Regions from separate parts of the Homo sapiens genome. Here region 2 is linked to region 1. Evidence: fine-mapped expression QTL. A gene starts in region 1. The other region holds a variant in brackets. All regions are shown on one strand. Distances are between the middles of the regions.

The links. PIP is the estimated chance that this variant, and not a neighbour inherited with it, causes the effect.
Region 2: its variant is fine-mapped to the expression of GCAWKR in transverse colon (GTEx, PIP above 0.99). The same link has a PIP of 0.9 or more in sigmoid colon.

Annotation. Positions count from the first base shown.
Region 1 is chr15:100,846,962-100,852,340 of GRCh38, forward strand. It overlaps GCAWKR (gastric cancer associated WDR5 and KAT2A binding lncRNA), which reads left to right and starts at 2,791. Exons shown (of 4, transcript NR_160703.1): 1 at 2,791-2,949. RefSeq lists an enhancer at 2,623-2,917.
Region 2 is chr15:101,561,471-101,566,849 of GRCh38, forward strand. It overlaps the pseudogene SNRPCP18. Among named protein-coding and RNA genes, the nearest start is that of LINC02348, 50 kb to the right of the region's middle. The variant C/T (reference allele first, on the strand shown) is at 2,450.

The DNA of each region.
Region 1 (5,379 bases):
ATGCCTTCTGATATGTTTCAGACATGCAGGCATTCGGGGTTTTAAACTTATTTTAAAACTGAAGAGAGAGCTGGTCCCTGGGGGCGAGCAGGACAGGGACAGGTCAAGTCACTGCTGGTCCTGCTTCATGAGGGGACACCGATAGGAAGCTTCATAGCAACCCATGTTTCATACCGTCTGGTGCACATATCAATATGTTTTCCAAAAGATAATAAAGGGGGAAAAATAAACATCTTCAATCCCTCTCAGAGAAAGGCTATTCTTCTTAAGAGTCCACACTCACCAGGCCCAGGATCTCCAATCCCACCTCTGCCCTACACAGGTGAATGCTATCTTCTCATTGCACAGATGAGGAAACTGAAGCTCGTGTCAAATAGCCACACAGCTGAGGAAGGTCCGTGCTGGGTTGGCGCTCAGCTCCAGCTGACCCAAAGCTGCCCTATGTGCCACTTTGACGTGTTCACTTCCAGTGAATCATGTATTGGAAAAACAGGTTGACTTGTTTATAGTCAGTGACACAGTCTGACTTACTTCGCTTGTTTTTGTTTTTATGTACCTTGTTGCTGGGTATCTTAAAAAAGAATAACTCTTCTCATGCATGCCTTAAACAGCACAGAATCCTGAACCAACCCTGACACAAAGCTGGTAATTTTTTAAATATTTTAAAGCAAAAAAGTGTAAAGAACAACAAATAAAAACAATTGTACCCATAATTTCACTACTCCACCCTATTTTCATATACTACCTGACATATACGTACATAATTATAATTACAATGTAGATATAATTTTGTTGTTTAACCTTTCAAAAATGTGGTTTGGTGGATAACTCCCTCATTTCTAGCATTTACATAATTACTAATTGCTGGATGTCATACTATACAGTTCACCTATTGACACACACGTGCTTTCCAGCTTTTCCGTTGTATGATCCACTGTAACGAACACTTTCACACATACTGTATCTTTCTTCAGTTATCTTGGGATTAGTTCCCAAGGGGCCATATTAGTGAAATAGTATGGAATATTTTTATACATATCACTAAGTTATTACTCTCCCAAAGTGATAGACCCGATTTGCAGGGCCACCAGTGCCAGTTTTACTGCAACCTTGCCAGCCCAAGTGGGCAAATCTTCCAAACAACACTAATTTGCCTGATGATTAACTATTCAAAATGTTATGTATTTCCTTACAGTTACTGTGGCAAACAATAAAACATCAGAAGAAATAGAAAACTGAATTCAGATGGGATTCTAGTTATAGAATTTTAGTGCTCGTAAAGACCTAAGGAGGGGGAGGCTGGCCGTGGTGGCTCACACTTGTAATCCCAGTACTTTGGGAGGCCGAGGCAGGCAGATCACCTGAGGTCGGGAGTTCGAGACCAGCCTGACCAACATGGAGAAACCCTGTCTCTACTAAAAATACAAAATTAGCCAGGCATGGTGACCCATGCCTGTAATTCCAGCTACTCAGGAGGCAGAGGCAGGAGAATGGCTTGAACCCAGGAGGTGGAGGTTACGGTGAGCCGAGATCGAGCCACTGCACTCCAGCCTGGGCAACAAGAACGAAGCTCCATATCAAAAAAAAAAAAAGAAAAAAAAAAGACCTAAGGAGGGGGAAAAATGAAGGAATCTCTTCAAACTCAGCCTTTACGCAAACACATGAAAAATCACAGACTCATTTGTCTGCAGTCCCAAATCAGGTCATTAAGAAAACGTGGTGGGCCGGGCGCGGTGGCTCACGCCTGTACTCCCAGCACTTTGGGAGGCCGAGGCGGGCGGATCACGAGGTCAGGAGATCGAGACCATCCTGGCTAACACGGTGAAACCCCGTCTCCACTAAAAATACAAAAAATTAGCCGGGCGTGGCGGCGGGCGCCTGTAGTCCCAGCTGCTCGGGAGGCTGAGGCAGGAGAAGGGCGTGAACCCGGGAGGCGGAGCTTGCAGTGAGCCGAGATCGCACCACTGCGCTCCAGCCTGGGGGACAGAGCGAGACTCGGTCTCAAGAAAAAAAGAAAAAGAAAAAAAGAAAACGGGGTGGACAAATCGATGGGGAGGCGGCTCAACCTTTTTCCTTCTCAGGCAGAAGCCCCTGAGTAAGGCCGCCGCTGCCACCCACTGCCCCTGAAAGGACATCTGAGCACAGTGATTCCGGTGGTGCCAGGACTCCAACCAGCAAGGAGCGTTTCGCACAGAGCTGCAGAGAGTCTGTGCCTTCCAACGAGAGCCGTGTCCCGAACGCCATCCACTTAGCTCTCACTCTCCTCCTTCCTCCTTTCCCTGCCGCTTTCTGTTTTTCATCAGGGCCTTGGAACTCGCTAGTACAGACCGACTTTCAAGTTAAGTCTTTCAAGGAAAATGACTCTTGGTTTCCAGCCTGGATGTGTCATTACACCCTCATGCGTCTCAGGGAAATTAGCAACCTGATTCTTGCCCTGACTGTCATTTAAAATAAAAAGCTTTCTTATTTGCCATCTAAGACAAACTCTAGTAAACCCACAGCGGACGGGTAGGAGGAATGAAACACAGTTACTCGTATTCAGCAAGTTCCTGGGGTCATATTTACCCGCATGTGTCTCCGGGTAACTGGGGGGTGGCGCGTGTTTGCCGTTGTGATGCGGGCGTGTGTGTGTGGAGTCTGTGTGCGCTGGAGAGAGCAGTGTGTCCCCCCGAGGACCTCGGGGTCCCAGAGCTGTGCACACGCTGCCCCCCTGGACGTACAGAACCAGCAGGTGGCATCGCTCCACACAGGCCACCGAACGGCCCTGCCCCGCCCCCTGCCACGCCCTGTGCGTGCATCCGGGTCCCCGCGCAGTGGCTGCACGCAGCCCACCTCTCCCGACGATCCGGGTCCTCCCGCCCTTCGCGGTGATTCTGTCGCGAACCCTCTCACGGCAGCTATGAGACTGCTGCGCTCCCCAGACGAGGAAACCTGGTCTCCCGGAGCCAGGTAACCCACCCGCAGCCTGCGGGAGAGCCGAGGTCTGCAGCCGGGCCGTCGGGCTGCCTCTTCCCGGGGACCCGGGAGCGGGGGGCGGGGGGCATGGTGGCCTCTCGGGCTGCTCCGAACGTCCCCTCCAAACAGCGAGGGGACGCACAGCCCCACTCAGGAGGGAGCCAATGACATTGAACCTGAACCCAAGCCAGCCTTAGACTGAACTTTCAAAGTACCATTAAGCAACGCCGTGAGGAAATGGAACATTCGACAAGGTATTATGTCGCATCTCTCTCTCTTTTTTTTTTTTTTTAGGTGGAGTCTCGCTCTGTCGCCCAGGCTGGAGTGCGGTGGCGCGATCTCGGCTCACTGCAAGCTCCGCCTCCCGGGTTCACGCCATTCTCCTGCCTCAGCCTCCCGAGTAGCTGGGACTACAGGTGCCCGCCACCGCGCCCGGCTAATTTTTTGTATTTTTAGTAGAGACGGGGTTTCACCAAGTTAGCCAGGATGGTGTCGATCTCCTGACCTCGTGATCCGCCCGCCTCGGCCTCCTACAGTGCTGGGATTACAAGCGTGAGCCACTGCGCCTGGTCGCACCTCTTTTCAAAAGCCAGTGTTATCTGGGAAAGTGCAAGGGGTGGGGAGTGGGAGGTGCTGTTTTCAATGAAAAGAAATGAAAGAGACATTGTGCGTCTTCTTAGGTGATATTACAGTACCACAGACACTACAGTTAGGTGACTGAGTCCAGTATTGTCTGTTTTCTCAGGTGTGATGACTGTGTCGTGTCATGCAGAAAAATGTCCTTATTTCTAGGAATCGCATGCTGAGATCTCGGGGAGTAAAGGGCCAGGATGTCTGGAACTTAATTTAAAATGATTTGACAAGGACAGGCATACACATAGGGACAAAGCAAATATGGTAGATGTTATCAATTGCTGAATCTATGTGCTGAGTACACACGTATTTGTTGTATTGTCTTTTCACCTTTCCTATATGTTTAAAATCTTTCATAATGTCATTCGGGGGGAAAAAAAGCTGATCTGGCTATACTTATTTGGGAATGTGCCGGCTAAAAGGGAACTAACAAATAAAAACTTAACTTAGAACATAAAATTTTAGAGACTGAAGGAACCGGAGACCTTCTAGAGCTCAACTCTCATTTTAAAGATGAGGAAAGTGGGCATATTGATTTTATCTTATTTTCTTTTTCTCTTTACTTTTTAAATGTTTTTGGTTTAACTTTAAGTTCAGCGGTCCATGTGCAGGTTTGTTACACAGGTAAACTTGTGTCATGGGAGTTTGTTATACACATTAGTTCGTCACCCAGATATTAAGCCTAGTACCCAATAGTTGTTTTTCCTGATCCTCTCCCTCATCCCACCTTCACCCTCCAATAGACCCCAGTGTGTATTGTTCCCTTTTGTGCCCGTAAGTTCTCATCGGTCAGCTCCCACTTATAAGTGAGAACATGTGGTATTTGGTTTTCTGTTCCTGTGTTAGTTTGCTGAGGACAATGGCCTCCAGCTCTATATTGAATAGTTAAAAACTATTTAGGCCGGGTGCAGTGGCTCACACCTGTAATCCCAGCACTTTGGAAGGCCGAGGCAGGTGGATCACTGAGGTCAGGAGTTTGAGACCAGCCTGGCCAACATGGCGAAACCCCATCTCTAATAAAAATACGAAACAATTAGCCGGGCATGGTGGCAGATACCTGTAATCCCAGCTACTCCGGAGGCTGAGGCAGGAGAATCACTTGAACCCGGAAGACGGAGGTTGCAGTGAGCTGAGATCACACCACTGCATTCCAGCCTGGTGACCGAGCGAGACTCCGTCGCAAAAAAACAAAACAAAACAAACAAAAAAAAAACTCTTTAAAATAAGTGTTATAAACTAACAGTTTATTTATCCCAGGCACAGAAAGACAAATACTGCATGATCTCACCCACAGGTGGAATCTTAAAACATTGAACTCACAGAAACAGAGTAGAATGGAGGTTACCAGGGGCTAGAGTGTGGGGGGTTGGGGTGATGTTGGTCAGAGGGTACAAAAGTTCAGTTAGACAGGAGAAAGTTTATCTTTTAGTGATTTTCATGATTTTGACAAAGTTGAAACAACTGAAACAAAGTATCTAAATATTTTAATACTTGTAATTATTTTTTAATTGTTGAGTGATTTTAATGAGTCAAAAATATAAAACAATCATGCATAATACATATAAATAATTTGAGTGTCCAACCCATATTACAGATGAAAGTAAAGAACAGGCAGATTCTGAGACTTGGGACAGGCAGCATTTGGCACCTGCGGAGGCCCGGTTCTACACGTCTGTAGTGGCAGAAAGGCAATATATATTAAAACCTAGGAAAACAGTCAGGGCACGGTGGCTCACACCTGTAATCCCAGCACTTTGGGAGGCCAAGGCGGGCAGATCACCAAAGGTCAGA
Region 2 (5,379 bases), 710 kb after region 1:
TAGGGAGAAGCAACCAGTAACGGAGGTGGGAGCCGGAAAGGTACCAGGTGTAAGCTGGGGGACAAGGGAGCAGGCGGACAACAAAGGCAATATCTTGGGGAGGCAAGAGGCAGAGGAGGTTTGAATTTTGCCCCCGCCTGTGATGGGCTGCCGGGTGGACTCCGCCGTCCTGGAGCTCCATGCAGGGGCCAGCGCTCATGTCCTGAGAGTGCGGGCGGCTCACAGCACAGAGGACTTGCACTGTGCGATCGCACCTCAGCGGTGGCCGTGCAAGAATGGCCTCATCTCTTAGGTTAGCTCCTGAGAGGGCCTCACTTCCTCCACCCACGGAAGCCAGAGCTCAGCTAAATCAGCGAGGTTCCTTACCCCTGTGCTGCCGTCCACCCAGAGGGCCCCGTTTTGGACATGTATCATCTGGGTTTGAATGCAGCCCAGAACCCAGTCCCAACTCAGCCTCACCTTCATAGGCAATCAGGTTGTCTCTGGGAAGCCCAGGCCTCCCAGAACTTCCCTGAGCACTGGCCGCTGGGTGCTGCACCCCAACTCTTCCCAGTCTTGGCCCCAGAAGTCCCTGATACCGGCAAGCCACACACAGAGCCCTCCAGACCAGGGCTTGTCTTGGGGTAAGATTGTGTACACCACAGGGAACCCGCCAATCCATAACACATAACAGGCCCCTGTCCTGTTCACAAAGATGTGTAACTTGGTAAAACACCATGCAGAAGTAAAAATGCACTATTGCGGTGATGTGGCCATGAGTCCAGTAGGGAAATCATTTTCCACGCTCTTCCTCTGTGGACACCATCTCCTCGAATGTGACTGGGGATTGGAAGCTACAGCTTCTAGAGTCCACAGGTCTTTCTTTTTTGCTGGCAAATTCGGACAACATCTACTCTGCTACAGGCTTCAGCCCATCTCCTATTTGCCAGAATTCACCTCAAGAAATCAAGAACAAAGCGTCATCTCTCACTTCAAAACGTTCTTGGAGGCACGTGGTTTCCGGGCCAATGGCCCACGGAGCAACAAGCCCGAGTCTGACTGTGACGGTATCACCGTGGTGCAGACCTCACCCATGAGTCTCCATCTGCGAGAAAGACACAGGGCGGCGGTGGGAAACACAAAGAGGACAGGAAAGACCTGCGCCGGAAAGGGATGGAAGAGCAGGCTCCGAGCCTGATGCACAGGACAACGGCTGCATTTCAACAAGGAAGGACACCTCCTGCTCCATTCTCCACTCCTCCTCCTGCAGGGGCAGGGATCCCACTTCCACCAGCGCCCAGGTCCTCCTCGCCACCCTGGTGTGATGCCAGCACCCTCTATGGGGGGTCCTCCTATGGTGCCAGTGACAGGCCCACCTCCTCCTGAGGGTGATGCCATGGGACCTGCTCCTGGAATGAGGCCACCCATGGGATGTCACATGCCAGTGTTACCCAGGCCCCCAGGATGAGCCCGCCCACCCATCGCATGGTGGAGCCCACGCAGCCCAGAATAACTAAGCCAGACAGATTAGAATAGTGGAGAGACCTCGTCATATCAGCTTTTTGCTATTTGTTCTTCTCCAGGAGACCATGGTGCTGTGACGCTGGGTGTTTCCTTAGCAGCATAAGGAAGACCTGCTCCCCCTTCCTACCAGAGAATAGTTTTGGAGGGGAGAAGTGAGACCAAAAAAGTACAGTTTTCATCTGTATTGTGAAATGTGAACATAAAATTGCCAACTCTTTCAGTTTTTTAAAAAAAAAAAGTCTTGGAAAAGCAAATAAAAACCACAATGAGATACCACTTCACATCCACCAGGATGGCTATAATTTTAAAAACGAAAAGTAAGTGTTGACAAGGTTGTGGAGAAATTGGAACCCTCGTACATCGCTGGCAGAAATGTGAAATGGCTCAGCCACTGTGGAAAATAGTATGGCGGTTCCTCAAAAAGTTAAATATAGAGTTCCCATATGTCACAGCAATTCCACTGCTAGGAATGTACTCCAAAGAATTGAAAACAGATACTCACACATGTACCCCATGCTCATAGCAGCACTAATTCCAACAGCCAACATGTGGAGTCAACCCAAATGTCTATCATGAATGGTTAAGCAAATGTGATTTATCCATACAGTGGAATATTACTCAGCCTTAAAAAGGAGTGAAGCACTTGTACATGCTCCAGTATGCAGGGACTGTGGAAACATGATGCCAAGTGAGAGAAGCCAGGCATAAATGGTTACATACTGCAGTATTCCACTTATAGGACATGCTCAAAATAGGTAAATCCATAGAGACAACAACTTAGTCTTTGCCCAGGATGGAGGGAAAGGGGAATGGGAAGCCACAGCTTACCAGGTACAGAGTTTCCTTTTGGGTGATGAAAATCTGGGCTTAGATAGAGGCGACGGCTGCACCATATCGTGCAGTTACCAAATGCTACTAATTGTTCACATTAAAATGGTTAATTTTA[C/T]GTTCTGTGAATTTCAAGCTTTCAAGTACTGGGGTTGAATCTGGAGACGCAAGGTCACTTGGAATCTCTAAGTGTTATTTTCTTAGCCTTTCCTCTTTTTTTTTTTTTTTTTCTTGAGACGGAATTTCGCTCTTGTTGCCAAGGCTGGAGTGCAATGGCACGATCTCGGCTCACTGCAACCTCCGCCTCCCGGGCTCAAGAGATTCTCCTGCCTCAGCCTCCTGAGTAGCTGGGATTACAGGTGCACACCACCACGCCCAGCTAATTTTTGTATTTTTAGCAGAGATAGGGTTTCACCGCGTTGGCCAGGCTGATCTCAAACTCCTGACCTCAGGTGATCCACCCGCCTCGGCCTCCCAAAGTGCTGGGATTACAGACGTGAGCCACCGCGCCCAGCCAGCCTTTCCTTTTGAGATATAAACTGGTTGCGGGATTAGAGTCAATCATTGCTGTTTTTCCAATGGGTTGTTGTATATAGATAATCTGGGATATTTTATTAAAAACTCAGGGTTATAAAACTTGCATAGAAAGATTCTATAATTATTAGGCCTGGAACAAAAAAAGAGGCTTGGTGTCCCAGTGGAATGCTGAGTGGCCAAGGGGAGCACTACCAGTGGCTACAAAAAGGCCATCTGGAGGCCAGGATCAGTTCTGTCTGACCGTAGGTGCTGAGGGTATGGGACGGCTGGAAAGGAGGTTTCTCTAGAGGACACCAGTGTCCAGACAAGGTTCTGGAGGATCTGAAGGAGCACGCTGGTGCCTTTGCTCCTGTAGGATGCTGTGGAGAAGGATCCCTGTATCTTATGTATAGGTTCCATGATCTCTAGAAGCACCATTGCAAGCCCATTTTACAAATAGGGAAGACAGGAGTGAGGGGCTTGCCCAGGGCCACTTGGCTGGATACTCACCCAGGCCAAGCTTGCCCAGCCCTGACAATTCACTGTCACCACCCTTTACTCCTGATGACCACAGCCCAGAAGGACAGGGATTGTGTAACATTCTAAGAAAATCATGCTGCCATGCAGGAAGGAGACAGACCTAGACTCAGCCAATAGCAGCTGAGGGGTAAAGTTGCTTCAAAAGAATTCTTGGCTTCTTGGTATTATTTGGTTTGCCCAGAGACTCCACACCCCACTTTTTTTTTTTTTTTTTTTTTTTTTTTTGAGACAGAGTTTCACTCTGTCACCAGGCTGGAGTGCTGTGGTGTGATCTCAGTTCACTGCAACCTCCAACTCCCTGGTTCAAGCGATTCTCCTGCCTCGACCTCCCAAAGTGCTGGGATTACAGGCATGAGCCACCACGCCCGGTCTCCACACCTCACTTCTACCCTCTGCTACTCTCCTGTTTGGAACGTTGGTTTCTTCTGTTTCCAATGGTTATCATACGGATGGCTATTTGATAAGTCCCAGTTCCAACCCATCACTCTCCCAAGGAGGTTGGAACTGGGACTTAGACCCCTGTGGGACCTGGATTCTAACATGTAAAACTCTAGTGCTCCCGGAAGCTGTGTTACTCCAAGGCAGCAGCCAGGCAGAGAGAGGCAGAGGAAACAAGGAGGTAGAGATGACGTCCTCACCTCCCCACAGTGCCCAGTGCCCAGCTCTGCCCCTAAGGCCCAGCCCCACACTGCCCACAGATTCTGAGGGGTCCTCCAGGATGCTGCTATGTCATGCCCCACAGACTGGTACCCTCACAACCTACCCAGTGTCTTCCCGGGAATCTAGAGGATGGGAAGCCTCAGTCTGCATTTCCCAGACTCCCTTGCAGAGAAGGTTTCACATGTGACCTGGGTCCCACCAGGCAGAGACACCTGCAGACTTGGGAGTTGGAAATGAGCACCCCAGGGTGGTGGCAACACTCAGGGAGATCAGACTTTCAGCAAGTAGAATGGCCCAGGTGCTTGGCTGTTCTGAGTAGCTGGGGTAGAGGGTCTATCATCCCAAACCTAAGCTATGGGCAGCAGCAGTGGCAGTGGAGTTTTCAGAAGAGTCCTGTGATCTAGGCATGTATTTCTCCTGGCTCTAAGGTCTAAGCTTGGGTCTTTGACCTGCCCAGAAATTAACAAACCACATGACAGGCTGTAATAAATTCCTTTCTCTTAAATAAACTGGAGTGGATTCTGTAGTCTGCGCCTAAGAATCCTAATTTATACACCTGCCAATAATAAATTCATCTTGTTGATAATTCGACTTGGGTGTCTGTCACTTGCAAGCAATGTAGTTGTAATACAATAGCCAAGTAATCATCCAAACTGGATAAAAAAACTTTAAAATGGATAAAAAATGTCTTTATCCGAATAACAGACGTCTCCATTTGCAGGCAGCTATGACTGTACCCTCTACATTGAGACATCAAGACATAATAAATTTCATTTTATAGCTTGGAAATGCATGAATATAACAAGTTAACTGACTTGTGGGGAACACTGAATAGCTGGAATTTCATCTAATAAGAGATTTAAAATTAAAATATTTTAAATAAAAATGTTCACCCTTATTGGGTCACTGGTTCCAATATTCTCACTTCAGTCCTGAAGACACAGAGGCCTGGGGTGTTGCTCAAATGCACACAGAGTCCATAACAGGATTAGAACTATTAGAAGCCCTACGCTAAGCTTAATATCTAGGCAATGAAATACTCCGTACAACAAATTCCTGTGACACGAGTTTACCTGTGTAACAAACCTTCACCCGTACCGCCGAACCTAAAATGAAAGTTACAGAAAATAAAGTAAGAAATGAAAAAAAGTAAAGAACGAGAAGCCCTATCACTGAACCCTACACTGGTCTCTCCACCACAGCACAGTGCCTCCGGAGGCAAAGATTTCAGAGCTCTTGACTTGGCCAGAAAATGCAGAGGAGGAAAAAAAGTCAGGGCCCATCACATATTTTGTACTTGTGACCATGCTCATGGAATTAGAAGTCAGAACA